4 linked regions of the Homo sapiens genome follow. The protein of the gene in region 3 interacts with the protein of the main gene of each other region in a pairwise test. Each region holds a gene or a part of one and is shown on either strand. Other genes may lie near its edges.

The links.
Region 1: the proteins of NEDD9 (region 3) and CDC42EP2 interact in binary tests that used the Homo sapiens proteins (3 or more experiments, as listed by UniProt).
Region 2: the proteins of NEDD9 (region 3) and TBX19 interact in binary tests that used the Homo sapiens proteins (3 or more experiments, as listed by UniProt).
Region 4: the proteins of NEDD9 (region 3) and RFX6 interact in binary tests that used the Homo sapiens proteins (3 or more experiments, as listed by UniProt).

What each region holds. Positions count from the first base shown.
Region 1 is NC_000011.10:65,309,494-65,318,342, forward strand, and holds the start of CDC42EP2 (cdc42 effector protein 2), read left to right. Parts: upstream 1-5,372; 5' UTR 5,373-5,461; intron 5,462-8,849. UniProt on the Homo sapiens protein: Probably involved in the organization of the actin cytoskeleton. May act downstream of CDC42 to induce actin filament assembly leading to cell shape changes. Induces pseudopodia formation in fibroblasts in a CDC42-dependent manner.
Region 2 is NC_000001.11:168,275,952-168,284,719, forward strand, and holds the start of TBX19 (T-box transcription factor TBX19), read left to right. Parts: upstream 1-4,925; 5' UTR 4,926-5,139; coding exon 5,140-5,342; intron 5,343-8,768. UniProt on the Homo sapiens protein: Transcriptional regulator involved in developmental processes. Can activate POMC gene expression and repress the alpha glycoprotein subunit and thyroid-stimulating hormone beta promoters.
Region 3 is NC_000006.12:11,182,798-11,188,759, forward strand, and holds the end of NEDD9 (enhancer of filamentation 1), read right to left. Parts: intron 5,511-5,962; coding exon 5,421-5,510; intron 2,875-5,420; coding exon 2,365-2,874; 3' UTR 501-2,364; downstream 1-500. UniProt on the Homo sapiens protein: Scaffolding protein which plays a central coordinating role for tyrosine-kinase-based signaling related to cell adhesion. As a focal adhesion protein, plays a role in embryonic fibroblast migration.
Region 4 is NC_000006.12:116,879,424-116,887,514, forward strand, and holds part of RFX6 (DNA-binding protein RFX6), read left to right. Parts: intron 1-1,120; coding exon 1,121-1,244; intron 1,245-2,943; coding exon 2,944-3,005; intron 3,006-8,091. UniProt on the Homo sapiens protein: Transcription factor required to direct islet cell differentiation during endocrine pancreas development. Specifically required for the differentiation of 4 of the 5 islet cell types and for the production of insulin.

The sequences.
Region 1 (8,849 bases), on a different chromosome or scaffold from region 3:
CTGCAAGCTCCGCCTCCTGGGTTCATGCCATTCTCCTGCCTCAGCCTCCCAAGTAGCTGGGACTACAGGCACCCGCCACCATGCCAGGCTAATTTTTTGTATTTTTAGTAGAGACGGGGTTTCACCGTGTTAGCCAGGATGATCTCAATCTCCTCACCTCGTGATCGGCCTGCCTCAGCCTCCCAAGGTGCTGGGATTATAGGCGTGAGCCACCGCGCCCGGCCTTTTTTTTTTTTTTTTGAGATGGAGTCTTGCTGTGTCACCCAGGCTAGAGTGCAGTGGTACAGTCTTGGTCACTGCAACCCCTGCCTCCCAGGCTCAAGCAATTCTTCTGCCTCAGTCTCCCAAGTAGCTGGGACTACAGGCGTGTGCCACCACGCCTGGCTAATTTTTGTATTTTTAGTAGAGACGGGGTTTCACCATGTTGACCAGGCTGGTCTCGAACTCCTGACCTCAGTTGATCCGCCCACCTCAGCCTCCCAAAGTGCTGGGATGACAGGTGTGAGCCACCACATCCAGCCCCAGATGCCCTTTTGGATCCTGCCCCTGAGGTAGCAGGGTGTCCAGGAGCCCTTCTGTCCAGGACAGTCCAGGCCCTGGCTGAGGCATCAGACCCTAGGGTCCAGGCTGGGGGATGCAGCGCTTGGCCTGAGTGTCTTGGGTCAAAATGCAGGCCACGCTTCCCCGTGGCTCAGGCTATTCCAGCCTCCCTACCCACACCCCAGGCCCCTACATATAGCCTGAGAACTTGCACAAAAAAGCCAAGTTTAGTAAATGAAATCCTGTTTTATACATGGCCTTATGAATGGCAGGGCTCCCATGGCGATGCTGGGTGTGCACACAAAGATCCTGTCCATTCAGCAGAACCTCCTCAGGGATCCCCTGGGCCCCAGCCAAGTGACAACCACATCTGTGAATGGGGAGAAGGAAGCGCCCTCCCTGCATGCTTGCACAGCGCAGAACCCAGGGCCAGGCGCCGATCACTCCTGCGATGTGGACTTGGTCGGGCCCCCTGCTCTGAATGACAGCAGGAGTGGATTGAGCGGCAAGGGGACTGGCACTGGGCGGAACACGTCACATCCAGGTGGGTTGAAAACAGTCCCCAGAGTGCAGATAGCATTTCTAGTCCTGGTTGGAAGGCTCAGGGAGGAAAGCAGGAGCTTGGACCAGGTTTGCGGGCTCTGCTGCTCTCTATCCCTACCCGAGGGACCCCTAATCACCCACCCCCCACAGAACTTCTTCAAAGAGCTCCGGGGTTGGTCCCCAGCTGTGTGTGGCCTTGGGTGAGAGGCTTTGTTTCTCCATCTTCCATCCCTGTAACTCTGTTTTGTCCCCAGCTCTGAATGGAGTGCCTGACCCTTCCCTGACCGCTACCCCCCAATGGAGGACTCTCAGCAGATGGGCAGGGGATGAGGGCTTGGCCTGAGCCTCATTCCCGCAGGCTTAGGTGGCTTCATCATTACAGCCATTCCGATCAAGCAGCACAGCCAGCTGGCCAGGCCCCAAAGCTCTTGTCTAATGTGTCCGTGAAACAATGCCACCTGAGGGGCTGCGTATTCCCATGAACAAAATACATGCATGTCCATCCCTTATCTGGTTTGGGACTTGCCTGACCTGATGCTACTACCCCATATTATAGGCAAGGAGACTCTGGAAGGGAAGGTCCTTTGCCTGTGGCCACAGAGCAAAGCAGCAGCAGAGACAGCTCAGAATCTGACTGATGGCTCAGAGGCCGGGGCTCAAGGCACTCAGCTGCCCCTCCTCTCTGAGAGCTGTGTCCTGGGGATGGGCAGGAATGATGCCTGTGGGGTTAGAAGCCTGAGAGAAGGAGGGGCCAGAGCCCACATGCCTTGCCACTTCTAGGCTCAGCAAATCACTGTCGGTGCCCTGAGCTTTAGTTCCCATCTGTAAAATGGGGATCGTGATTCAGGCTCTGGCCACGTCACTAGGCACCCCCAGGAGGATGTAAAGAATTCAGGAACATGAAGCAATGGGTAAAGGGCACAGGGCGGCCTGGCAAAGTCCCATGGCAAGAATGGGGAGAGGCACACCCTTTACTCACCCCTACCACAGCTTGGCCCAGGGCCATCATTGCCACTTACTCAATGGTCCAGGCCTGTTTTCCTCCAAGCTGCCAGGCCATTCCTGGCAGAATCCACCTGACCAATACTCCCTGCAGAGTTGAGGGCACACTCAAGATTAAAACCTGAACCTCCTTGGATTCGTTTTCTATCACTGCTACAACAAATTATCATGGAATAGGTGGCTTAAAACAACAGAAATTCGTGATCTTACAGTTCTATAGGTTAGAAGGTCAACATGGGGCTGAGCGAGGTGGCTCATGCCTATAATCCCAGCACTTTGGGAGGCCAAGGTGGGTGGATCACTTGAGGTCAGGAGTTTGAGAGCAGCCTGGCCAACATGGTGAAACCCTATCTATACTAAAAATACAAAAATTAGCCAGGCATGGTGGCGGGCGTCTGTAACCCCAGCTACTCGGGAGGCTGAGGCAGGAGAATCGCTTGAACCTAGGAGATGGAGGTTGCAGTGAGCCGAGGTTGCACCACTGCACTCCAGCCTGGGCAATAGAGCAAGACTCTATCTCAAAAAAAAAAAAAAAAAAAGGCCAATGTGTGAGTCTCACTGAGCTAAGATCAAGGTGAGGAGGTGAGGGCAGGGCTGTGTTCCTTCTGGAGCCTCTAGGGTAGATAGGGTAGAACCTGTTTCCTTGTATTTTCCAGCTTCTGAAGCAGTTCCTTGGTTTGGGGCCTCTGCCTCCATCTTCAAAGGCAGCAACACATCATTTCTCTGGCCCTTCAGTCATCACATCTCTCTCTTTTTTTTTTGAGACGGAGTCTCGCTGTGTCACTCCAGCTAGAGTGCAATGGCACAATCTCGACTCACTGCAACCTCTGTCTCCCAGGTTCAAGCGATTTTCCTGCCTCAGCCCCCCAAGTAGCTGGGACTACAGGCACGTGTCACCACACCCAGCTAATTTTTTGTATTTTTAGTAGAGACGGGGTTTCACCGTGTTAGCCAGGATGGTCTTGAACTCCTGACCTTGTGATCCACCCGTCTCAGCCTCCCAAAGTGCTGGGATTACAGGCGTGAGTCGTGAGCCACCACGCCCGGCCTATCACATCTCTTTCTCTGTCTCCTGCTTCTACTTTTAAAAACCCTTGTTATTACACTGGCCCACCCAGATACTTCAGCATAAGCTATTTTAAAGTCAGCTGATTTGCAACCATAATTTCATTGGCAATTTTCTTTTTTTTCTTTTTTTTTTTTTTGAGACGGAGTCTCGCTCTGTCGCCCAGGCTGGAGTGCAGTGGTGCGATCTCGGCTCACTACAAGCTCCGCCTCCCAGGTTCATGCCATTCTCCTGCCTCAGCCTCCTGAGTAGCTGGGACTACAGGCGCCCGAGTAGCTGGGACTGCAGGTGCCTGCCACCATGCTCGGCTAATTTTTTTTTTTTTTTGTATTTTTAGTAGAGACGGGATTTCACCATATTAGCCAGGATGGTCTCGATCTCCTGACCTCGTGATCCACCTGCCTTGACCTCCCAAAGTGCTGGGATTACAGGCATGAGCCACGGCGCCCAGCCCTCATTGGCAATTTTCATTTCCATTTCTCATGTAACAAAACATATTCATAGATTACACAGGTTCGGATGTGGGCTTTTTTTCTTTTCTTTTTTTTTTTTTACATGGGTTTTTGCTCTATTGCCCAGGCTGGAGTGCAGTGGCGTGATCACAGCTCACTGCAGCCTTAACCTCCCAGGTTCAAGCAATTCTCCTACCTAAGCCTCCAGAGTACCTGGGACTACAGGCTTGAGCCACCATGTCCGGCTAATTTATTTGTTGTAGAAACAGGGTCTCACTATGTTGCTCAGGCTGGTGTCAGTGTCAAACTCCTGGACCCAAGCAATCCTCCCACCTTGGCCTCCCAAAGTGCTGGGATTATAGGCATGAGCCACAGCACCTGGCTAGATGTGAACATATTTAGGGGGGCTGTTATTTTACCTACCATGATCCCCTTCTTCCCATCCGGACCTCCCAGCTTGTCTGGCATCTTCCCCCACCCCCAGCATCCTGCCTCCCCCACTGAGGTCTTCCCGGCTCTGCCTCCCTAAAAGCCCTTCCCACACTGACAGCATTGAAGCCAACCATCCTGGTCACACTGAGCTGGCATAGCTGTCATCCTCTAGAAAGTGAGGTCTGTCCACCCCGTCACTACCCACCACTTCCTCTGCCCCACTCTTCTTAGCACTTACCCACCTGGAAGGGTATCATGATGTACCTGGGAACTTGGATTTCCCCCATTTCCCTTCTCTGGGCTGCAGGTCCCAATCCAGAGGCTGAATCCCCAGGGACAAGAACAGCGCTAGGCACTTGGTAGATACTCAACAAATCTCTCTTGAGTCACTGAGAGGTGCAGTTTCCTTCAGTCTGTCTCCAGCACCCTGTGCGGTGCCTGCCCTTCAAAACATGTTTCTGGGCCGGGCGCGGTGGCTCACGCCTGTAATTGCAGCACTTCGGGAGGCCGAGGCGGGCAGATCACTTGAGGTCGGGAATTCGAGACCAGCCTGGCCAACATGGAGAAACTCCGTCTCTACTAAGAATACAAAAATTAGCCAGGTGTGCTGGCACATGCCTGTAATCCCAGCTACTCGGGAGGCTGAGGCAGGAGAATCTCTTGAACCCAGGAGACGGAGGTTGCGGTGAGCAGTCTGGGCAACAAGAGCGAAACTCTGTCTCAAAAAAAAAAAAAGTTTCTGGCCCTGTAGGAATGACTGACTGACTGACTGAAAGAATGAATGGACCAGGAACTAGTCTGAATATGAGCCCCACCTTCACTCTGGAAGCCTGACAGCAAAGACGGGGGTCCAGGCCACGCGGCCTCTGCCTTCCCATACTGTCTTTTCTAGTGGGAGGTAAACTGATCAACTAGCTTGTAAGTTTGTAGTATTCTAACGTAGGCGCTTCCAAGGAAGTCGCTGAATATACTTGTGCCGGCGCTTCCCCGACGCAGCCCTGCAGGGAAGGATCCGGTCCAAGGTCTCTCTGCGATTTCTGAAGAATTCGGTCTTCCCGGAGCCTCTCCCCCGGCTCTTCTAGAACCGAAGGTTTTAGTTCCCATGGGCACAGCCGGAGGCCGCCTGCGCCACCCGGCCCTCAGCCGCCAGAACCAGGACAGGACTCCAGGGCGCGCGCGACCGCTGGACCCGGGAGCGGCACCTCCCACGCCGGGAGCCCCGGGCGGTGCCCGGAGTGGGGCGGGGCCTGGGCGGGGATGGGGAGGGGCTTGGCTGGCGCGGCCCCGGCATTGGCTCCGCGGGCCGGGGCGGGGCTGCGGGGTCCGCGGTGCACTCTGTAAGTTCACCGCCGGTCGGGTCCGGCCGCCGCGCTGTCCAGCTCCTGAGACCTTGCTGTCCGCCGGTCTGCCGTCTGCGCGCCTCACGGTGAGTTCGGGCTGGGATTTTCGCAGCTTCGCGGGGGTCCCCCGAGAGGCCCATCTCTGTGGCGCCCCGCCCCAGCTCGCGCCCTGGCTCTGCCTCTCACCTCACTCAGTTCCTTTCGAGGGCTCCTAGGGCTCCATGGGGCTTCCCACCCGCATCTGGGTTCCCGCAGCCTCGCCCGTGCCCGCCACGGTCCGTGGGGGCGCAACGCATCCCGACCCCGAATTCCCCGTTCTGCCCTCCATTTTGTGTCCGGGCCCCCGCCCCCCTCCCGAGACCCAGGGGTGCCCCGCCGCCCAGCATCCCCACCGGGGCTGGGGGCCGTATTTTTAGCCGATAGTGAGTTGTTCTCCTATCTTTAGCTGCGGCCGCGAATGTCCTGAAACGGATCCGGGCTGGGCTGGGCTCCGCCCGGGTAGGAGTGGGGAGGGGTCGGCGCAGGAACCCGAGCCGGAGCTAAGGAGCCGGACCCGTGGGAGGGGCGGGGGCCCGCACGCCCGAGCTCTGGCCCTGTGCCGAGCGGACACTAGGACATCGCCCAGGCCGGAAAGCACAGGGGGGAGGCTCCTCCCAGAGCTTGGAGACTAGGGCAGGGTCCCCAATCGCCCCCTTTTTCCCCGATTGTGGGACCAGAAACCCCGAAGCAAAAAGATCTCGCAGGTAATCCCCATCTGGTACTTGAACGCGCAGCTCCTTGGGGACCGCCTGCCTGGAGCCCGGGGGAGGGGCGCTGGAGACCCCGGTGCGCTCTCGGAGTCCTCCGGGACACGAGGCGATCAAGGGAGCACGCGCGCCACCTGGCGGCCGCGGAGCCGGGCACCTCTCCGGAGGCACCGGGACCCCGGGAGACCCAGCGGCCGCTAGAGGGTCTCTGCATCCTCGAGGTCTAGGAGGGCGGGAGGAGGTGGACGCCTGGGGTCAGGAGCCCTTCGTTTTTGCTATTGTTCAAAGCACTGGCCCCGGAGAATCGAAGTGCTTGAGGAAGGAAGGCCTTGTAGATATTTGCTGAATGAATGATAAAACCTACAGTGACCCGCTGAACCCCGCTATTGTACATTGGCGCTCTCACCTGCAATATTGCAGTGGGATCTCCAGTGGCCCTTTAGTGGTGGCTTCGTTGTCAGCCCATTTTATAGATGGGAAAGGTGAGACCCAGAGAGGAGAGGCGTCTTGCTGAAGGTTACTGAGGAAGTCCCAGGTGGAGCTGGATTTAAGGACAGTCTCCTGATTTAGGAGAAGAGGGGGTGTGAGGTGGCCTAATATTCTTCATGATAGGAGGATCCCTGCCTGCCGGAAGTCATTTTCTCATTGGGAGGTCCAGGGCTCCTGTCCAGGGCAATCACAGAGAGCTAGGATGCTCCTATCTGCTCCCCGACTGCTGCAGGGAGCTCCCCTCCCAGCTCCCCACAGCCCTGTCCTGATGGAGACCTCATTCTCATATCTCTGGACACATGAAAGTTGGGCAGACGGGGGCAGCCAAAGGTCAGGATGTAGATGGAGGAGATCTGGGGACCCACTGTTCCCAGCCTAGCTGTGAGCCCCTTTCTCTCCCGCTCCCCAAACATATTATGGAAGTAGGCGTGGCCCACTGCATGGGAACCACGTGGACCAGGCTGGGTACCCACTCTTCCACTTCCTAACTGGATGACGTCGCCAATGTTACTTAACATCTCTGAGGTTCAGCTTCGACTTCTGTAAAGGGCCGTAATGACCCCACCATGCCGTGACTGGGAGCTTTAAGATGAGAAACTGTGCGTGGCAAGCTGGATCCTAGGGTCTTGCAGTTGCCAAATCTAAATTCCTGGGGCGTGAGGGTTGTAATTCCCAGCTCTCCCCTGGGCCGCTGATGCTGGCCTCACCCTCGATTCTCCCCACATCTGGAATTGGGTGTGTACATCTGGCTGTGAGTGAGACAGCTGTCAGGGACGCCCAATTTGTTGTGGAAACACTCAGGCTGTCTTGGCGCTGCCGTGTGATGGGGTTGGGGGTGCGGGGAGGACCTGGCCCAGGCTCTGGGTACATCCCACCAGTCAGCCCCACGCTCCATGAGTGAAAAGGAAGACAAGCCCCCCCCAGGACTTCTCTCCTGACGAGCGACAAATTGCATGTTTGTCAGCATGGCCCCCAGGCCTGGCATGGTTGACACAGGATGAATGCGTGACGGGATTCCAAGACCTCAGGGTGCCCATGCGTCCCCACCCTTCCCCCAGCTCCTTGCAAGCTGAGCTGGATTTCCGCCACGGGAGAGTCATTCCTTTGTTTCCTGTTAAGCTCCAGGTGCTCTGGGAGGGGTAAGATGTCCGGCCTCTGTGGCTCAGTACGACTGACCCGGGTGTCCGGTCCTGGGGTGGGGTTTCCTGAGCAAGGGCCTCAGCTGGTGGGGGGAGGGGGGCAGTTGGACTCTGCTTCTCCTGCATCCTCCTTCCTCCTTCCTGCTCCCGCCTCCCAACCCCCTCACCCCCACCCTCACCCTGCCCAGAATGAAAACTGAGGCAAAGAACTGGCAAGAGCCACCTTTGGTGAGCCCCTGGCTGGGCCTGGGGAGGGAGTGGTACAGGAGGGTGGGCTCATCTGGCTTGAATTCCCATGCTGCCCTTACTCACTGGGTGACCTTGGACAAGTTTCTCTCTTTGCCTTTTATGCTGAGTCTACATCTGGGCTCATGTGTACTGGACCAATCAGGTCCCATGTGCGTCCCCCACCCTCAAGCAGAGGGAGTGCTTGCTTCATTTCTTTTTTCTGTTAAATCAGTATGACACCCCTTCATAGCTATTTATTTTTACACATTAAAAATAGCTTAATTTTTTTCTGACTACATAAATATGTGCATATAAATAATACATTGCTTATTAGTAAGAATTTGAATTCATAGAGGTCTGAACAAGAAAGGAAACATCAACCTGAAATTCTACCACTTTGAGAAAACCACTGTTCCATCTTTTCATATTTATATATATTACACACATTTATCATGTCATAGTCATGGGACCAAAATATTATAGGTTATTTTTATTGATGACTCCTTTCCTCCCATATCAGTGACCCCACCCCCCATCCCTGCTGTGTACCCTAGTCAAGGTAGCCCATATGACAACCTAGGGCTGGCCTTCTAGATTTTTCTCTGTGTTTTAAATTTTTTTTTTAATTTTTTTTATTTTTTTTGAGGCGGAGTCTCACTCTGTCACCCAGGCTGGAGTGCAGTGGCACGATCTAGGCCCACTGCAACCTCTGCCTCCTGGGTTCAAGCAATTCTTCTGCCTCAGCCTCCTGAGTAGTTGGTATTACAGACTTGTGCCACCACACCTGGCAAATTTTTTTTTTGAGACGGAGACTCTCTCTGTTGCCCAGGCTGGAGTGCAGTGGCGCGATCTAGGCCCACTGCAGCCTCTGC
Region 2 (8,768 bases), on a different chromosome or scaffold from region 3:
GTATGGCCATTTTAAAATATTGATTCTTCTTATTCATGAGTATAGACTGTTTTTCCATTTGTTTGGGTCATCTTTGATTTTTTTTTTTAAGCAGTGTTTTGTAATTCTTGTTGTGATCATTCACATCCCTGGTTAGCCATATTCCTAGGTGTTTTAGTTTTTGTTTTTTGTGGCTATTGTGAATGGTATTGCATTCATTATTTAGCTCTCAACTTGGACATTGTTGGTGTATAGCAATGCTAGTGACTTTTGTACACCGATTTTGTGTCCTGAAACTTTGCTGAATTTGTTTATCATATCTAGGAGCCTTTGGGCAGAGACTGTAGGGTTTTCTAGGTATAGAATCATATCGTCTGCAAAGAAGGATAGTTTGACTTCCTGTCTTCCTATTTGGATACCTTTTATTTTTCTTTTGCCTGATTGCCCCAGCTAGAACTTCCAGTACTGTGTTGAATAGGAGTGGTGAGAGTGGGCATCTTTGTCTTGTTCTGTTCTCAAGGGAAATGCTTTCAGCTTTTGCCTCTTCAGTATGATGTTGGCTGTGGGTTTGTCATAGATGGCTATTATTTTGAGATGTGTTCCTTTTTGATGCCTAGTTTGTTGAGGATTTTTAACATGAAGCAAGGTCGAATTTAATCAAGAGCCTTTTCTGCATCTATTGAGATGATCATGCAGATTTTGTTTTTAGTTCTATTTATTTGATGAATCACATTTATTGATTTATGTATGTTGAACCAACCTTGCATCCCAGGAATAAAGCTTTCTTGATTGTGGTGAATTGGATTTGGTTTGCTAGTATTTTGTTAAGGATTTTTGCATGTATGTTCATCAGGGATATTGGCCTGAAGATTTTTTTTTCTGCCAAGTTTTGGTATCAGAATGATGCTGGCCTCATAGAATGAGTTAGGGAGAGTTCCTCCTCCTCTATTTTTTGAAATAGTTTCAGTAGGATTGGTACCAGCTCTTTATATGTCTGGTAGAAATCAACTGTAAATCCATCTGGCCCAGGGCTTTTTCTGGTTGGTAATTTTTTTATTACTAATTCAATTTTGAAACTTGTTATTGATCTGTTCAGGCTTTCAATTTCTTCCTGGTTCAGTCTTGGGAGGTTGTATGTTTTCAGGAATTTGGTCATTTCTTTTAGGTTTACCAGTTCGTGTCAGCACCATCTATTGAAGAGACTGTCCTTTCTCCAATGTATGTTCTTGGCACCTCTGTCGGAAATGAATTCACTGTAGGATTTATTTCTGGGTTCTCTATTCTGTTCCATTGGTCTATGTGTCTGTTTTTATGCCAGTACCATGCTGTTTTGGTTACTATATCTCTTTAGTATAATTTGAAGTCAGGTAATATGATTCCTTCAGTTTTTTTTCTTCTTGCTCAGGATGGCTTTGGCTATTCTGCATCTTTTATGGTTCCATATGAATTTTTAGGATTTTTTTTTCTATTTCTGTGAAGAATGTCATTGATATTTTGATTGGGCTTGCATTGAATCTGTAGAGTGCTTTGTGTAGTATGGACATTTTAACAATATTGATTCTTCCAGTCCATGAACATGGTTTATCTCCCCACTTTTTAATGTACTCTTCTATTTCTTACATCAATGTTTTATAGTTTTCATTGTAGAGATCTTTCACTTCTTTGGTTAAGATTATTCCTAGATATTTTATTTTATTTGTAGCTGTTGTAAATGGGATTACTTTTTTGATATCTTTTTCAGATTGTTCACTGTTGGCCTATAGAAGTGCTATATTGATTTTTGTATGTTGATTTTGTATCCTGCAACTTTATTGAATTTGTTTATATATTCTAATAGTTTTTTGGCAGAGTCTTTAGTTTTTTCCAAATATAAGATCATATCATCTGCAAACAAGGATAATTTGACCTCCTGCTTTCCAGTTTGGATGTCTTTTACTTCTTTCTCTTGTCTGATTGCTGTAGCTAGAACTTCTAGTATTATGTTGAATAACAGTAGTGTAAGTGGTCATCCTTGTCATATTCCAGTCTTAGTTCTGTTTTTTCTTCATTTCTCCCTTACTGGTGCTTCAGAACACTTCACATTTCTGTATTGGAATTCCACAAGCGTGTCTTTCTGTCCCTTCTAGATTGTAAAACTATTTGAAGGAAAGATTTTTATCTTACTGGTAGACTGTTTGGGGAGACATTGTTCACTGTATCTCACAGCGTTTTCCTCATAAAGATTTATGGGGGAAATTTCTCACAGGTCAAGGCTTGCTTTTATTTTAGGGACACAGTTTAATGTATGCCAGATTATATTCCCCCACTTTGCATTGGCTGCTTGGAAGCTCAGAGCCACAATTGTGTCACAGTTCTAAGCAGCGCCTTCTCAAAATCTCCACTTATATACCTAATAGTCTTTGCATTAGTCTCCTATTGCTGCTGTACCAAATTACCACAAACTTAGTGGTTTAAAACAACATAAACCTATTATCTTACAGTTTGGGGAATCAGAAGCCCAAAATTAGTTTCACTGGACTAAAGCCAAGGTGTCAGCAGGACTATGTTCCTTCTGGAGGCTTTAGAGGATAATCTATTTCCTTATCTTTCCCAGCTTCTAGAGACTTCTTACATTCCGTGTCTTCTGGCCCCTTTTTCCATCTTCAAAGCCAGGAGTGTAGCATCTTCTCTCCCCTCTGACTTCTGCATCTGTCCTTACATCTTCTTCCTCTGACTTTGATCCTCCTGCCTCCCTCTTATTTTTGCGATTGCACTGGGCTCACCAGATAACCCAGGTTAATCTCCCCATCTCAAGACCCTTAACTGAATCACATTTGAAAAGTCCCTTTTTCCCATGTGAGGTAATACACTCACAGGTTCTGGGGATTCGGAAATGGGTCTCTTTTGCAGGGGGTCCTTATTCAGCCTGCCACATTCTTTTCAGTGTTAGCTGTATGAAACTGAAATGTTTGAGTCTCCTAACCAAACTGTACCTCTGCCTACCCTTCCACCTCCCTCACCTTCCATATCTCAGTAAATGGCCCTGCCATCTAATAATTGTTCTGATCAGGCACATGGTTCTCTGCTCTCCCTCACCCCCATATCCAGTCTCTCATGTTGTTCTGTCATATAGACTTCTAAAGTGTATCTAGAACCTGTACACTTCATTTTTTGGCCACTGCCACTACCCTAGGCTAAGCCATCACCAGCTCTTGCCTGAATTGCTGTCATAGCCTCTAATTTGTTCTTTACTTCAGCTCTTGCCCTTTCCTAGTCTATTCTTCACAAATCGATTAGATTTTTTGCAAACACAAAGCCAATCATGCTGTTTTCCTACTTAATACTCTCCAATTGTTTCCTATCTCATGCTGAAGAACATTCAAATTCTTCATCATGACTTCTAAGGCCTCATGGTCTGGCCTGGCCCTCTCTCAAAGAACATCTCATTCTGCTCTCTTTACCACCACATTCTGGTCACACTGGCCTCCCTGGAGATTTCTACCTGGCTCAAGCCATGCTTCTCACATGTAATTCTTCTGCTTGGCACTCTGCCAACTCTTCCCCGACTACATCTTTGCTGAGCTTTTGGTCTCATCTGAAATGTCTCCTCCTCAAAGAAGCTGTTCTATACAACTCCATCTAACTGGAGTTCCCTACCCTGCTGTGCACAAATTTTTCTTGATCACTTCACCCTTTTAAGTAGCCTTCATAGACTTATCACTATTGATAATTACTTAGTTGTTGTTTACTTTATATCATTTATTTTCTCCATCATATTGTTAATTCTGTAAAGGCGCAGGCCATTTCTGTTTGTTCCTTGCTGTATGTGATGCTTCATAGGTATGTAGCATAGGAGATCCTGAATACATTTTCTGTCATCCTTACCCTGACTTTATCTTACCTTTTTGGGTTTGTTTTCCTTATGTTCTTGTTTTCTTACTTTGTATTGAAATGAGAGAAAAACTCACAACCCCCAGGCTCTACTCAAGGTTGGGGGCCAGAGGAGGTAGAGCTTCCTCTGCTCCTGTCTCTTCCACCCGCCATCCACTCACTCGCCATTAGTACTGTGTGTTGTGGGCAAAAGAAAAGCTTTCTACTAGTGTTTCTTCCCAGGGAATGTGGGATTCATCCTGGAATGCCAAAATAAGGATGAATTGTCTAAAGAGAAAACCAGAATGCCTTTCTGGACCAAAGATTGAAATTGCTCTGCCTAATAATGTAAACAGTTTATTTTCACTGACTGGGGGCAGAGTGTTCCTTAGCGAGATTAATATGATACTAGCTGCTTTTTTGTCTTCCTCTGGCAAAGGCTAGAGATAACAAAAATTGGGGTTCTAGACTCTAGGGAGGAAGGACAACATTCACAGCTCCATTTGTAGGAGGTGAGGAGGGCCCTTGAGAAAAGTGGGGTGTGAGCGAGTATAGGACATTCAGGAGAGAGATGATCAGTAGGGGACACCCTGGGAGAAAGAGATTCTGAGCTCTTTTCTTTTCTCCGGAGCCCTGACCCTTGAGCAGTGGCACACAGAGTGTCTTCCTTTATTCTCTGGTACAGTAGTCATGTTTCTTGGCACAGTGCCTTGGACCTTCCATACATGCTTTCTTCCCTCCAGAGCCTTCGTCTAAGATGCTGGAGAGTAGCTTATAGCCTGGGCATCAAGTTTGTCGATTCTCCCCAGGACCCTTTTCTTTATAGGTGCCACATGTCATGATTTATGCACAAACATGATTTGCCTGACAGTGCAGTCTGGGCCTGGAATAATTTTAATTAATGGGAAAATGGTCCTCAATACACCGATTAGACCTCTTCAGGTACAACAAGATAAAAGCCTGATAATTTGGATGGAGTACTCTTCTTAAATATCTACTCTGTGCACGGCAGCCAATGGGAAAGCCAGGCTCTCTCCCACCTGATCCAATGAGTAATTAAGAGAGGGCTTTTTCTTCCCTACCTCTCCCCTGCCTCCACCCCGCTCCCCAACTAAAGCTTAACAGGTTGGTGGCATAATGTGGAGACTTTTAAGGGGTGTCATCCTAGGAGCTTAGGCAAGAGCCAGGGTATCTTCTCTCCGCTCCCCAAGCACTGTTCAAGTGGGTTTGAAAAGCAGGCAAGTGAGGGAAGGAAGAAGCTAGAAGCAGGCAAGTTGGGTAACGGCTCTCGGCAAAGTTCGAGAAGTGCCTATGGCCATGAGTGAGCTGGGCACTCGGAAGCCCAGCGATGGCACTGTTTCTCATCTGCTCAATGTGGTGGAGAGTGAGCTTCAGGCAGGGAGGGAAAAAGGCGACCCTACGGAGAAGCAACTTCAGATCATCCTGGAGGATGCACCTCTCTGGCAGAGATTCAAGGAAGTCACTAATGAGATGATTGTGACCAAGAATGGCAGGTGAGTTTATCTGCCGCCCCGCGTGGGCTGGCAGGGCTTGGCAGGAGAGATGAGACCCCTTGAATATTGAAGAGGCTGCCGCTCTTCACTCAGAGGCGGCGGGATCTGATTAAACATGCTTACAGGAACGACTGTCTCCAATGGCTTTCCTCCAGCCAACTTAATTAATTTATCTGAGATCATCAGAGGATGAAGCCACCTGTCTTATGTGCATTTTAAATGGAGAAATTCTGGGGAAATTACCATAAAGTGGGGGGCATGCCCCATTGGGATGGGAAAATGGACTTAAATGTCAGAAAATAATATTAATTTGTGACTAGCTGCATACCCTATCGCAGACCTGAGCCCCAACTCCGTCCAGATAAGGTGAAAGACAACTTTATTTGGAAGCTGGATGATCTCCTCCTAAGTATAGCAAACTTGCCAGAAATGTTTGGCTAGTTGAAGATTGGAAGCAAAAGGGCAAATGTAAACTCATTGCCTATCACTTCATCTGCTTCCCCGTGTGTGTTTGTGGTGAGTGTTCATTTGAGATTGTGTGTGTTTGTGATGATATGAAAGCTGTTGCAGTAATAGTGGATGAAAACATATTATTCTGCTTTAGAGAAAAGAAGATGCCTTCTTTCTTATCAGTGCAACAAATTTAGGGATTAACTGAAACTGATCTCTGGTGGCATTTCTCAGATTCTATTAAACCTAGTCTGCTAAGGGGCTGTCCAGGTAATATTAGAAGATTTCACTTCGTAGAGGAGACGCAAATATTTTGAAACAAAATCTCACCGCTCGCAGCTTGGCCAAACTGGCTCCAACATTCAGCTGGTGTTCACATAGCTTTTCATACACATGGTCACAAAAGTACAAAATGCTGAAAGGCATTTTCAGTAGGCTTAGTTTTGGCTGAACTCTAATTATGACACCCTCGAGAGAATTCTGATAAAAGAGAAGAGCCGAGGCCATCTGAACTTCTTTCTGTCAGGCTTTTGTCCTTGTGCAAAGTGCTTCCGTTCCTGATGTCTCGGTTTTCTATATTTTAATAAAGCACAGTATAGAAAATGAACTATTTCTTGTCAATCTTGAAGAGTTATGAACTCGAGAGCTGTTACATGGCATTAAAATGCTTTCTAAAATGAAAGCCATACCTGAATTAGGGCATTTCAAGAAATTGCGATTATACCAGTAGCAGGAATATCAACCTTGCTTGATTTTTATATTTTCTTTCTCAAAATGGGTTCCACACTTATTTCATATAGATTTATTGCTTTTAATATTGTTACTGTAATTATAGTTCCTTCTCTTGACCTGTATTTACACATTATTTTTAGCTTCTTTCATAGAAGAAAACATAAAACATAGTTTTAATTTCACAGAATTACACCAAATTCTTAATTGGATTTAGTCTCTGACCCTTTAAAAATGGGCAAAGATGCAACTGTAAAAATTTTATTATATCTGATTATAGGTAGAACATTCTGCTTATTTTTCTTTGTATTATTGGATACTAATTACAGTAATACCTAGCCTTATGCTATTGATTGGGCTGTCAAATTGGCCATTTATTAAAGTAAAAATAAGTACAATTACCAAGTCAATATATGGTTCATCTATTTCAATAAGGAATAAATAATAAAAGTTTCTGAAACCATGATAAATTCCAATTTAATAATATGTTACATTGGAATGTACTTTTACCATTTAAGAAAAGTTTTATCTTGCCTTTTTATTGCCTATGTAATTTTCCCCTATATTTAAAATGTAATATTCTTCACATCAGCCCAGTGTGGTGGTGTGCTCCTGTTGTCCCAGCTACGCAGGAGGCTGAGGCAAGGGGTCCTTGAGCCCGGGATCAGTCTGGGCAACACGGTGAGACCCTGTCTTTAAAAAGCAAAATGAAATCCTTCATCTTTAACGTCATTTAATATTAGCTACATGAACAATATTCTTTGTAGAAAAAGTCTGATTGCGGTGAACTTGGCTGTTCTTATCTATGGATGTCCTGCTGTGTTTGCCGTCTTCCTATAGATGAAATCTTTTTCTTAAATTCTCCTAAGCTCTCGGAGCCCTTTAGGGTCAAGATTTTGCCAGGAGATAGAAAGTTTCCTTTATACTTTGATTAAAGAAGGGAAGACAAGTCCATAAGAAATTGATGTACTTAATAATGAATGAACTTGGTCTGAAATTACCCCCAACCTCTTAGTTTCTCAGATTAAACCATTAGTCACACTTTACCTTTGTTAATATAGACATCTTTCTTGCTTCATCTTCTTTACTCCCTTCTTCCTTCTCTCTTTTCTCCCTAACTATTTATTCCTCTATGCCTCCTTTCTACCCATTCTCCTATGTCTATAGACTCTTTGTGTCTCCTTCAAATCCTTGCCCTCCACATCAACTCCCGCACCTGGTGCAGGTAGATTTGTGGCCCTTCCCTGTGGAGAAGAATGTTCCTGGTATGATTACCCAGTCCTAGCCTTTTTCATTCATAATGTCACCTGGGCCCTTTTTCATTGACATTGTCACCTTGACTTTTTAAAAAAGCATCATTTGGGGTGGTAACTCCTATACACTTGAGGTCTCATTGTTCTGCACTAAAATAGCAAATCTTGAAATAGCGTAAGATGGGCCGATGAAAGAGTGAAAAGACTCATTGTCAAGTGGAGATCTACTTTCACATATATAAATAGGAAGCTTGCCTCTGACATTGATCAGAAGCTGTAAAGAGAAAGGCTTTTCTCTGAAAAACACGGAATTATCTCCAGAAACTGGGATCCTGATGTTGGCCTCTCTTCTTTCGTTCCTTCCTTTCTCTCTCTCTCTTCCTCCTTTTCTTTCTTTCTCTCCCCTCCCCCATTCTACTACTTCATTTCCCTTTCAGCCTTTTCTTCCTCCCTCTCTTTTTAAAATTGAAAACTTTCAGTTATTCATAGTTAATAGTCCTTTAGATATAACAGTAATAAGTATAATACCTCCTTAGAGCTCATTTGAGTCATCTCTAGTGTATCCAGCCAGTATTCCCTTTCATGTCCATCCTTTAAGCTGGAAACTTATACTTTAGTTTGCAGAAAGAATTCATTTCAGACTTCAGAGGTTAATAAATTAAATTGCTTGCTAGCATGGCAGCTCATGTCTGTGATCCCAGAACTTTGGGAGGCTGAAGTGGGAGGATTGCTTGAGCCCAGGAGTTTGAAACCAGACTGGGCAGTATAGGGAGACTTCTTCTCTACAAAAAATTTAAACAACTAGCCAGGAGGCCCAGGTAGGTTGATCACTTGAGCTCAGAAGTTTTAGAACAGCCTGGGCAACATGGAGAAACCCTGTCTCTCCAAAAAATACAAAAAATTAGCTGGGCATGGTGACACCTACCTGTAGTCCCAGCTACTTGGGAGGCTGAGGTGGGAGATCACCTGACCCTGGGGAGGTCAAGGTTGCAGT
Region 3 (5,962 bases):
TACATTTAAATAATTTGTCTGTAAATCTCAGTGGGATACCTGAATAAAAGAGTGGGCCAACCATTAAAAATGATAATTACATGATTACAAATCTCTTATTTTCATTAAATATAGTTTGCTTTAAATTATTTCTTTATGACTATTCCAAAACAAATAGAAAAATTTTCTTTGATTCTAAAAACCACATGACTGGTAACATCCATATTATGAAAACAAATCATCCTATATGTTACTGAGTGTATGGGTTTTTTGGTGAACACAAGTCTTGTTCCAGATATTTGAATTTGATAATGTTCACAGATTCTAGAATTTTCTTTGAATGCAAATACACTTGGAAGTGACACATATACAGAGAAAACCAAACCCTCAATTTTCCTAAAAAAATCCAGACCTATAGCATTGCTAAAATAATCATAATTTAACTTTTTATATTAGGAGTACCAAAGTAAGCCAATATTTAATTCTGTGACAGAGGAGTATGAAAAAGAAAACCCAGTGGCTATGAAAACAGAGATCTAAAAATTTAATGATTTAAAAATAGCCTCTACATACAAGACGGCAAAGAGTAATACAGATTGAACATTTGGTTTTAAAAATGTGAAATGTCTCCACTTAGCGTAGATCAATCAAGTCAGCCATCTCCTAAGAAATACACATTATACAATGAAATCTACAAAGACACACTTTTTAACTTCAAGCGTTGTTGATTTTCAGCAACCCTCTTCCCACATGAACATTTCCTTGTAATGTAATGTATGACTTTTAATCTTCTTTTGGCAGAGTAGGACTTTGAGAATTATAATAGCAGTTGTTTTGAAAAGCACCTTCTATGATCATTTATTTCCACTGATTTTTTTTTAATCACTCTGAGATCATGCATTCTTGTTTTTTAAATCCTTTTCTGTTCCAATGATTTGGTTGTTTAAAACAAGCAAGCTTAATTCAGTCAGGCATATATTGCAAATAAAAACATGTTTCCAAGTAGGCTGGAATAAAAATGCTAAATAAGAACTGGGCCAAAAGATCATAGATAATGTGCTTCTTCTCTTGGTAATATGTGAATACATTTACCCATGGGGTAGAAGTATTTCACCTGCCCCATGAAGAACCTGATGGCTTGTGGTGTCTGTGCTGTGTCAATACTAACAGATGTGAGGAGACAGACTATGGAATGGACGCTGTGACTATCTGTGAGATAGTGGAAGGGGTTATACACACTGGCCACAGGAAGTTGCAAAAATTAGATGGACTCTGTGTAGCTAGCCACTCTTGAGTGTCAGGTCTGCATATGTGAGTTTTAAAGAAGGTGCAAGATAGCAATAAATTCCCTTAGAGAGCAGGATATGTCCTGGTAGCTCTATAGTTCCATGATCAAGGACCTGGCCAGTTTCCCTCAGGTAATGGGGGTAGTAGCACCAAAGTGAATATTAAGAGTCAGAAAGGCCTCTACTTGCAACTGGCGGATCAAACCATTCCCCTATTTTGGTGAACAATCATAGTCTGATACGCCTTTGTAAATCTTTGCTGCAAATATGGTTTTTACAACTCTAAAAACATCTTTTGGAAAACCTCATGACTGAACCACTCACAAATGCAGAAGATTGAACAGCCCCAGGGAGGCAATTGCTCTCCTTTTATTGTAGCTGTCTCTCAGTATTGAAACAACCCAATCCTAACTGTGGTCCTGGCCTCTAAACACACAGGTCTCTCTTCCCTCCAGCACCTGAACTATCAGAGCTTGGATCCACATATATATTCTGAAATTTGCTCCGCAAGAGGGCTTTTGGGCACTTGGCCATCATGTGTTTAAGATGGTCAGTTTTGAAAAGAGTTTTCCAAACAAGAATAAGTCATGCTATGCCTCATGATTTGGAAGGTGAACACTTGCAAATAAACTATGCTTCCCAGATTTGGGAGTGCCAGGCTCAGAATCATCACAAGGACGTGGAGAACAATATTATAACCAGCTGGTATGTTTTTAACAACAACAAAAAAAATGCAGCATTAGAAGGTGCTTACTAAGGTGCTTCGTAATTCATGGTTTTTTTTTTAATGAAATGCATCAGACAAACATCTACAAACAAACATGAATACATGGGCATACAAAAGCACGTGGACAAGTTTTCTGTACAGTTTATGTCTCAGATACTTCTATGTATACATAAGAACCACTCAGGGGGAAAAAAAAAGATTTCCCTCTCCAGCTCCCTGAATTTCTGAAAGTTGACTGACCCATAAAATGTTAAAATATTTCATTTTTATATAAAATATCTACAAAAATAGATAACATTTACAAAAACCAGACAGTATTTCCAGTTTTCCTTAGTAACCGTTAACGCAGTCCCCTTCCTCTTTTTTTTCTTCTCAGAACGTTGCCATCTCCAGCAAAGAGCGCTTGAACAGCTGGGCATTTCTAGAAAGGTCTGTCACTTGGTGCACCATTTCCTGCAGGGCCGTGGTGCTGGGGTAATGGAGGGCGGCCATCTTGGTTGCCATGACTATGGTCTTGAGCTGCTCGCAGAGCTGGTTGCTGGAGTTCATGACTTTGTTGCGAATGTCCTGGGCAGTCACCTGCCGTGTCAGCGTGTCTCCAATGAACACCAGTTTGTGTGCACTGAGGATGACAAACTTGCTGTGTGCCACGAAGATTCGCGGGGGCTGGGCTGAGCTGACACAACTGAAGAGTGCGTCAATGGCGTTGAGAAGGGAAATGAAATGGGTCTCACATTGGTCATAGTAGAAGCACAGCAACTGCCGATCCTGAGCACTCACGCCACTGTTTGTGGTGGGTAGGCTCTGAGAGGGCTTCCACTTCGAGATGTCATTCTCCACGGGCTTTGTAATCTCTTGTTCCAACAGCTGGAACTGGCTCAGCTGCAAGGAAGACGAAAGCAGATCTCATTAGAGCAAGGGAGTGTGTTGCAATGGAAATTCACTAGGCCTTGGAGTTAAAAGACAGGGATTTTAGTCGCTAGTAACTGTCAGATGCATGTGAGCTGTAAAGCCTGGGTCAAGCTGCCTTGCTTTCCTAAATTGTAAAATGTAGACGTTGGGAAAGATGATCCTCAAGCTCAGACCTTCTATGATTGGACTACTGGTCTCTTGTACCCTCTGGCTAGAAGGTAGCATAGTGTTTAAACCGCAGCCCTGTTACCTACACCTTTATGGAGGTTAAATGAGTTAACGTTTACAAAATGCTTATAATAGTTTGGTATGTAGTAGGCTCTATGTAAATGTTTATTAATGTTGAGGGGTGGCAAGGGAAAACCAAATGTAGTGACCTCCTTGTCAAGTAAGTCACTGACAGTTTGCTCCTTCTCGGAGAAAGCCTCGACTATCTCAGGATGCTCAGATGAAATGACCATTCATGACCCCTTTCTGTTTATCCTACTCTTTCTGTCAAGATTGATAGACATGTTATGATCCAGCACTACAGGAAGATTAATGCATATAAATATATGAGCACTTAAGGAAAAAAAGTTTCTAAGGCAGTCTGAATGGGAATTGTGCATCATAATATTTAGTCCCCCAGAGCTGTTAAAAGAAGGGGGTTTTACCCAGAGTCAGATGCATCAGGTGCTGGCTTTCTTCCTTCTTTCCTCATTGCTACCAAATGGTGTATTATTTAAATTGCAATTATAATAATTTCTAGGGATTCCACTAAGACTCAAGAGAGACCTCTCTTCTGCAGATAAGGACTATCTGTGACCTGAGCTTCAGACTCAGTTAATCTCCCACCTGGACGTAGGGATGAGCTGGAGCAGTGATCACCTCACCCAGCTTCCCCAGCTTCTCTGAGAGATGCACAGCCAGCTTTACTTTACTTTTCTTTTTTTTTGAGACAGAGTCTTGCTCTGTCACCCAGGCTGGAGTGCAGTGGCACGATCTTGGCTCACTGCAAGCTCCGCCTCCCAGGTTCACACCATTCTCCTGCCTCAGCCTCCCAAGTAGCTGGGACTACAGGCGCCCGCCACCATGCCTGGCTAATTTTTTGTATTTTTAGTGAGACGGGGTTTCATTGTGTTAGCCAGGATGGTCTCGATCTCCTGACCTCATGATCCGCCCGTCTCGGCCTCCCAAAGTGCTGGGATTACAGGTGTGAGCCACCGTGCCCAGCCTTCAACAGCTTTACTTTTCTAGAATCTGTTTTCTTCTTAGCGATTGCTATGGTTTCTACAAGTTCCCCAAAGCCCTGCAGTCTTACCTTGCCAGATGCCAAGGCAAACATAAATAGGTACAAGGTGATATTCCAAGGTATTTAATCATAATGGATTATATTTTATATATCTTAGGCTTTATGCAAATATGTTCATCAATATATCATGTCATTAGATGGGGGGGGTACTTTCCCATTTTATAGGGAAGTAACTGAAGCTCGGGGAGGTTACCTGACTTGACATAGTTGGTTGGCCAGAAAGGATTAGAACTCAGATTTCCTAAATATAGCATGCCATTTCATGTCATTACATGCCATTTCACTTCATTTCATCTTAAAAGGCTTGTAAATAAATCCTCAATCCATCTCTCTTTATTTGTATGCCCTTGTTCTAGCAATAGTCGTCATTATCTCCCCTACTCATACCCAGCTTTTGAATGAACATGCCCTGCCCAAAGTCCTCAGTAGATAGGCCTGGATATATGTTGAAAACATTGAATTCTGCTCTCCTACCTTTAGATTGGACCAAGGCCAGGCAAACCATAGGCTTGTGTTGCTGGCGAAAGAGAGACAAATAGCGAGGTAGAGACAGAAAGAGAGAGAGAGAGAGAGAAAGAGAAATGGCCCAATCAACGTGGCCCAATCAGACTCTTTCTTGGGAATCTGATGAACAAGAGAAGGGAGCTAACCATCGGAAGAGGAAGCCGAGATGAAAAGCCATCTATAGAAGTTCTGAGTGGCCATTTATGGGTTCTGCAAAGTTACAGGGGAGCCAAATGAGTAGATAATTAGAGAAAACCAGAAAATAGGTGAGAGTGAAGTAGACTGATAGAAAGAAGCAAAGGAACTACAAGAAGGAGAGATAATTTACAGTTCTAGTTCTCCCCAGACCTGGCTCTATCTTCACTTTCTGTTACTGAATTCCCCTACTGTGGCTTTACTATAAACCTGCTTGCTTAGGCTAGCTTGAATGGGTCTTGTTTCTTGAGACCAAATGCCTTAACCCAAATAGTCCTCATATGTTAGATATGCAGGTTTAGCCTTTAAAAAAATTGCCGTTTAGATGGAACCCAGGTACACCCAGTTGAACTAACAAGGTCATAAACCTTCTCTTTGCTTTTAAACCCCATTCCGTGCTTTGGAGCTGATTCCTGCCAGTGAGCTGGAAGAATCAAAATCATAATCTCTTGAAGTGATACCTTTCCTTAGTGCTAGGTGGGAAATCTTTCCAATGCCAAGCAGTTTTTGCTCTGATTGAACTTACCTGATGATGTTCCAGCTGCATCTTGTTCTGTTTCATGATATTCTCTTTTTCCAATAGCTCTTTCTGTTGCCTCTCAAACTCCTCCTTACCCTGTTAATTTTCAACATAAAGAACATATTATGTCATCACTGTGATTCACTTATGCTAACAATTTCATTGACGGATGAGTAAATACTCTTTATTTTCCACTGCCTTGGCAACATCTCAAATGCCCAGTGAGGCACTGTGAACCCTAGACGACAGGGGTGGCAGAAAAATAAAGCCCATTGCCATATAGGGTGCCAGCTTTCTGGGGCACCTTAAAATTTTCGGAGAGCTACTCATGATTCCCTTCAAATCTCATATATAATGTTCTTTTTATAGTCTCTGGGTTCTTTTCTCATAGATTATATGTGAACCTGTAAACCCCCAAATGCAGGTCTAAATGTGGTCCACCTCTCACTTCTAGTTCCCTCAAATCATCTATAGATTTCTGCTCCAAGGCAGTAGTTCCCACTGTGCAGGGTCAGACAACCAGTAAGATGAATGTTCAATGCCTCCAT
Region 4 (8,091 bases), about 110 Mb from region 3:
GTCAACTGATTTTATGTACATATATTGATTTCATATTTTGAAACACTAGATCTTAGTTTTTGGTCTTTTTTTGTTCTTCATTAAAAAAATGAGTGATATTTTACCTGTTCAGGGAATACTTTCTTTAGCCTTTATCTTGTACACATTAGGATATTTTAAATCAAATCTTTGAAGGGTTTCATCCAATTTTAATCTGCAGACTCTATATTGCATCGTTTCTGCATTATAATAAATATTATCTTACTATACATAAAATTGGTATAAGTAAATTTTAGTCAAAATCACCTACTGAACTGTTAGGAAAACTGGGATTGGAATCTAAAAGTTTAATTTCTACATTGCTGTTTAGAAAGTTGTAACACAAATATGTATTTATTACATTTATATAAGTTATGCTTAGTTACAAATTAAATGGAATTACTTCAAATTTTCAAAGGTTATATAGTTATTTTTATAATATAAAGTTGAAGGTATATATGTTATGTTTGGAGATATCTATAGAGAATTACATTATCTTTTAAGTGTATAGGATGTTTTAGATAATTATAGTACTGATGACAGTAGTAAAAAGTATAGGAATAGAAATATATCAGTGTCATTTCAGACTTAAGTAAAATGAGTTTATCCTCATGTGTTTTGCAAATAAATGCATCATTGTCCTTCCCTAATTATTCAGGGCTGAGAAATAGGTTTTGAATGAAAGTGAGAGAATGTAAGCATTTGCCAACCTGAAGCTTGACAGCCCTTTAGTACTAAGAATGTTTTAAAAAATACCCATCATCTTCAATTTCACCATTCATATTTATATGTCACAGAGCAAATCATGATGAACCATGAGGTTTATATAGAAGACCTAATATTTGTGATGTGGACCAGGCATGGTTTTATGTTAGCCATGATATTTTAACTGTACTAGCAGATTTTTCACTGGGGTTTTGTACTTTTAACATTAATCCTTATAATTTGATTTTTAAAAAATATCCAGAATAAACGAAGTCTACTTATGTCTACTCATTACCTCATTTATAGAGTCCATATTCAAAATGGGTAATAAGTCAATGAGAAAGTTGAAGGAAAAGGAAATAAAATATTTGACCTAATTTTTGTTCCTTTTTCTTAGGCTTGAAGAGAATTACATTGTATGTGAAGGAGTTTGCTTACCACGGTGCATTCTTTATGCACACTACTTAGATTTCTGTAGGAAAGAGAAATTAGAGCCAGCCTGTGCGGCCACCTTTGGAAAGGTAAATGACACGTATTGGCTATAGTGACTTATAACTAAAGTCATGTCAGGCAGATAGCATGAAAATGAATTCATCTGTGCAAGTTCTCTTAGAGAATATTGAGACATTTGTTTTGCAGGCATAAATTGTCTTAAGGACTCTGTTTGGAATTGCTATATGTTTATAACTTGATTTTGAATATTAGAACCCTAACTATTAGAAGATCTAATGTGAATTTAAAGCAAGCTTTGTTTAAGCAGTAGCATTTGCCTTCAAAGAGGGATGCATTAAAGTGTATAGTATGGCCTGTGGTAAGAAGCAAAATTAAGTGGAGGTGACAAGTCTCTTGCTAATGCAATTAGTGGTTAGTGGTTATCCATACTATTTACCTAGTCCAAATATATGAGTTTTTAATAGGTTTTAAAATGTATTAAAATTTCTCCTAATTCTCCATTTCACTCTATGTTTACATTCCAAATCCCAAGATTTTATGATGGGATGGGTTAGAATTCTCTCATTTAAAAATATTTCTTTCTACCCAACCTGTGTGGTTAGGATGGGAATCTATATAACTGACATTATTATGCTTATATATAGAGAGAGAGACATCACTTTGAGAATCAATATGAATGTCTTAAGAAAGCCTTGTTCTTTAAGATTCATGTCATGCTGTGTTTGAGAACCTAGGATATCCCAGAAAAACTTTAGGAAGCTTGGGTCTCAAATATTGTATCTTACACAAATTGAAATCCAGATTCTAACCTGTAGAGGGACTCATTGTCCAGAAAATAATGAATACTACAGTCCAGCTTCTCATTTAAAAAATAATGTTATTTATTTCAAAAACCTATCTATTTACAGAGAGAGTGTGATATTATACATTGTAATCAGGTAACCTGGGTTCTAGCCTAGACTGGACTAATTTATTGTGAGACCTTCTGAAAAGCACTTAATCTCTTTAAAAATCTGTTTACTCATTCTATTAAATGAGGAGTTTGGATAAGACAACTTCTAATATCCATATTAACATTACCATTTTGTGAGTCTACCTTATGGGAATAATTCTTAACTGTTTGGCAGTCATGAAGCACCTTGAAAACCTGGTAAAACTGTAGAGCCAGCCTCCAAGAAATTAATACATACATAGTTTGCCATGGAGCTCTTTAAAGTTCATGTATGGATCTTCAAAGATTGAGGTTAAAATTGTTTTATGTAGAAGACTTTTTAAAAAATGTTTAATCAGATCCTAATTTTAGCAACTTTAGAGAAAGGAACATACAAAACAAAAAATTTATAACATTATAATGGAGATACAGTAAGGCAGAGAAAGTTTTATATGTCCTTTGGGGTTGGGAATAGATTTTTAATTGTGGGTAAATCTCTGTATGGAATTATATGAAGAGACCCAAATCTTCTCACTCCATACATAAATAAAGTAATAATTGCTTTGGTAGTACCATCAAGCAAAAGCAGATATTGGTATGATCTGCCTTAGAAATCAAGACAAGGTCAGTAGAGCACTTCAATCAAAAAAGTACCTCCCTGCCTCTGCTGATGTATTGCTTATCAATATGTGTAAGTTATTACTTTTTCCAGACTAAGTATTCACTCACAGTTCATTCAGAGTTCAACATTTACTTTCCCCAAGTAATTGGCTATGAGTGGCTTGCATTAGGACCATATACTTTCTAACGCCTAAAGTAATCATCTTTCTTTTTAGACAATTCGCCAGAAGTTTCCCCTCCTAACAACAAGGCGGCTTGGAACAAGAGGCCATTCAAAGTAAGATACCAGTGAACATATTCAGGTTCTGCTCTTGTGCATGAAGATTGACACAGATGTAAAATAAGTATTGTCTTTGTCAGTACAAAGAGAACCAGGTATTCTCTTGATGAAGCAGACTTTTATCAACTGTGAGAACTGAAAAAAAAAAAAAGATTTTAGAATAATGTTTAAAAAGCAAATTTTACATTTGAAAATAATAATGTATTATTATTTCTGCTGAAATAATTTAAATGAGTCATTTTCATAATCTTAAAGCTGTTACTGAAGGCACCAGTGTTATGAGGAGGAATGCAACGCTCCCAAAGAGCAAGGCCCAAACCAGGGGGTAAAGAGCTTTGAGTAGGAAGGAAGTGCCTTAGCATGCTTCAGGTTCTTCCTCTAGTTTTCTTTCTGAGACAATAATTTCTTGATATCTCCTTCTCTTCTCTTTAAGACAAATGACATGCACAGATGACCTGTTTGGTCATCTCTTAAGGTAAATATAAACATAAACTAAGCTGTCACACATTCCCCCTCTTTATGTCTTTAAATTTTCCTCTCTGTTGTGGCAGTCTCTGGAGAACTCCCAGGTACAGTTTCTCATTCAACAGCTATTTTCTATGCGTACTGTGTTTTCAGTTTCTCCTTTCCTTCTGCCTATGAGCATGTCCAGATCTCCTTTATGCTGAGAAAGAAAAAAGTTCCAACCTTCATGATTGCTCTAGTATTTCCCCCTTTGAGCTGTTGCTTCCCTTACCACTGATCACATCCCTCTGACCTAGTCCATTTCCTACCTGGGCAAAAATCCAATGGCTGGTTTTTACTGTTACTCATCTTCCTTGGCTCCTGCTTAGCATTTGAACCAACTGATAATGCCCTCTTAAAATAAATACAGAAAACTACCTCTATAGCTTCTCTGTCATAGTACTATCTAGGCCCTCTTCCCTCTTCTACCACTCCTTTTCTGGCTTGTCCACTGCCTCCTTCTGCCCTGACATCACATCCAGCACTGATCAATGAAAGTATAATGTGGCCACATATTTAATTCAAAAATTTCTGGAAGCCACGTTTAAAAAGTAAAAAGGAACAAGCGAAATTAATTTTAATGTTTTATGTAATCCAATTTATCCAAAACATTATTATCTCACTATGGAATCAATATAAAAATTATTAATCGGATATTTTACATTCTTCTTTTCATACTACGTTTTTGAAATCTAGTGTGTATTTTACACTTACATCACATCTCAGTTTAGACTAGCCACATTTCCTGTGCTTACCCCCACATATGGCCAGTGGCTTTATTGCTTTATTGGATAGCTCAGCTTTAGACACTTGCAAAAACATAGGTCCTACTTTTTGAATTCTTTTGAATATGACTCTCCTCATTGCTACTTTCATAGCCTGGCCTTGACTCTGTCTTTCTTGTCCATTCATGCAATTTTTCCAAACTGACCTTTTAAAGTTGAGATTCAATCATATCTCTTCCATGTTCAAAACCTCCACTGGCTCATAATTTCTACTATTAACAACAAACTTTCCTCAACTTGACATTCAAGGTCCATCATGATTTAGTCCAAGTTCATTTTACTATGTCACCTATTTCTTACTTTCTAGCATGTAGTCTATGTGCTCACCAAATAATTATCCCAGTAACCTTTGATTCACTCCAACTGCCAGTCTTCTGTTTAAGTTTATGCTGTCTTCCCCTGGAGAATGCCTTTTCCCATATATGTATGTTGAAATTTTACCCATTTGAAAGAATGTCTCTTGAACTTCTTCCTTTAGATCTTTTTTTAGTCCATTGATTTATTGTAGGTCCCTTCTCTGCACCCTGTGGCAGTTTGCTGGTACCTATCTTAATGTGAAATTAACTTATCTCCTCCTCTAAACAGATAATACATATTTTGAGGACAGAAACTTTGTCTCATTCACTTTTATATTCTTTCTGTTGGTCGATATATAATAGATTATCAATTAATACTTATTTAATTGATTGCAATTAATGTTAACATTATTGTGGCCTGGAAAGAATAAATAAAGTGCCAGATTCAAAAAGGCAAAATGGGTCCCTTCCTTCTAACCAAGTCAACTTTATTTCAAAGTTTGATCAGTTTAACTGACTGATTTCTACTGAATTTGATTCCTACTGAATTGTATTGGTTGAGGAAAGATCAGATAGTGTTTAAAGTAAATAGATAGGGGGAAAAGAGGCCGAGCAATGAAGAGAAACCCTCTTGACAGGATCTATAAGAGGGTGGGCTGGCAGGCTGCAGGGAAAGTCAATTAATCTTTGAAGGAGCCTTTAGGATTAGGGATGAATCATTAACCCTGTCCATTGTGTCACAGTGGGGCTCTAGTACTTAGGTTGATGTAACAACATGGGGTGACTTCGGGCAATTTATTTGAATCCAAGAGCCATAGATGTGCCCAACAGCAAGGCATTAACAATTTGAATTTTTTTCTGCTGTGCTGATATGCCATTTGATATTTGTGACGTGACTTTTTTGATATGTTTATATCATAGAGAAAAATTAATTTTCCATATTTAAACTACATATGGTAAAAATATAGCAAAATGTAGTTTGTATATCTTGTAAATAGTAATTTTTTTGACATAATTATTCTTAGCTAGGTATGTTTCTGCCTTTATTTCCAAGAAATATCCTTAGCTTTTATCTTGGAAGATAGAATATCAAAAGGCAGTATAGCCTAATGGTTAGGGACATAGGCTTTAAAGTTGGACAACTTTAAACATGAATCTGATGTTTCCATGTATAGCTGTGTGACACCAGCTTTCCAGCTAGTGATTTATTGTAAGGTTATTCAGCTTTTCACCAGTAAAGTGGGTATACAATATCTTATAGGATTGTTGTGAGAGTTAAATGAGATAAAGTATAGGAATGAATATAGTAGTGAATATGCTTTCAACCGCACTATCCTTAATAATAAAAAATTAATGACTCAATATAAAATATCTGCACTACAATTAGAAGTTATTTACTGAGTATTACACACACACACAGATGCATGCACTCATCTCTAATCCTTGCAATAATGATAGAAGATAGGAATTACTGTATTACAAATGAGGAAATTGCATTTCAAAGGTTATTGGCTTGCCCAAGGCCACATAGATAATACATAATAACAATGCTGGCATTTGAATCAAAGTATATCTGACTCTAAAGTTTATGTTTTATCTGCTAGTAAAAGTAGGGAAGCCTACTACTTTTTTTCCAATATCAATCGTATCAACAAATAATTATTCAATTGAATGTTTGATTTTTGACATATAAGTTTTATTAAGTTTTTTTTTAACAGATCTAACAGTTCTTAAACTTTATTAACATATTAGATTCTTCTTCAGAGAACAAACAACACTTTACCATGCCACAATTGTAAGGCATTTAATTTAGAGGTATTTGTGTTTTATATTAACAGCAAATTTGTAGCACAATTTTATTTTCTGCCTTTTAATTTTAGTCCTAAACATGTCTCTGTTATATATTATCTTTGCAAACATTTCTAATGGCTATTATTTCATAAACTTACATTTTATAAAAATATTTTTATGTTTCTATGGAAATATGAACAACTGAATGAAAGACAGAAATATAAAGTAAGTATACCTTAGAAAATCAGGGAATCATAATTTCTCCCAATTTTACTAGTAATTTTGCAAAACATTTTATTGTTATTGTAGTGTTTAATACAGTACTTTTAGCATAGTATTACTAAATATTTGTTGAATTATTTAAAAAATATAAATAAATGTGATATTTATTTTAACTTCCTTGGATTGCATACTAATACATACAAACATTGTGAAACTGTTCTGATGATGATTACTTAAAAAATGAGTTCTCAGTTTGGCCAAATTATTATAGGATAGCTAGAGTATGTCCAGTCATCTCACTGGGGACTATCAGAATTTATTTTAGATTATGATTGACTCAAAAGGTTCTCCTGTACTCTGGGCATGAGATAGCACCCTCTTTTTAAAAATTGTTCTTAGATGTCTTTGAGGTTCATGAAGCAATGTCACTCTCTAAATTTTACTGGTCCCTATATAAAACCCAAAGTTTGGAAAACACTAATCTATGTGACAAAGAGATGATTAGTAGGGCCTAAAAATCATGAATGAATGTGGTGTCTATTTTCAAGTTCTATTTTCCTAAGTTTTGAAATAACTGGCTGTTAATTACAGTAATGTCTTCACAGCTCTCACATTTGTGCATGTGCTACTTCTTTCCCTCACTGAAAAGTGAAAGATGAAAAAGTTTGACTGTATAAAATGAGCCCAAAATTTATTCAATTAAATGGAAGAGATAAAATATTTAAAACAGATATATTAAAACAAAAAAAAATAGGCTGGATGTGGTGGCTCACACCTGTAATCCCAGCACTTTGGGAGGCTGAGACAGGAGGATCAGGAGGTCAAGAGATTGAGACCATCCTGGCTAACATGGTGAAACCCTGTCTTTACTAAAAATACAAAAATTAGCTGGGCGTGGTGGTGCGCACCTGTAGTCCCAGCTACTCAGGAAGCTGAGGCAGGAGAATCACTTGAACCTGAGAGGCGGAGGTTGCAGTGAGCTGAGATCGCACCACTGCACTCCAGCCTGGCGACCGAGCGAGACTCCATCTCAAAACATAACAAAACAAAACAAAAATAAAAAAATAATAAAACAAAAAAATCTAAACAGACAGGATCACTGTGTAGGGCCAGATATCATCCACTGTCAAAATTAGGAACAATTAAAAATGGAGTAATTTGTTTTCAGTGGCAAGTTCAACATTCCACATCAAAGGCCACTGCTGCTGATGGTTATGGAAAAAAAAAATCTCTAAAGATGAACATGAGGGGTCAGGAAGCGTCACTCTAGGGCACCTAACAAGTGTGCTTTGGGGACAAAGCCAGTCAATTTGCAGGTCCATTAGCAGCTCAGCTCTCTATCCAGTTCCTTCACGCTTACCATCCCCTGCCAGCCAAGAAAACCAGCAACCCCAGCGGCAGACACTGTACATTCCCAATACCAAGATAAAAATTGACTTTACTTTCATGTTTCTTCTTTTCTTCCCTTTAGTTTTACTACCAATT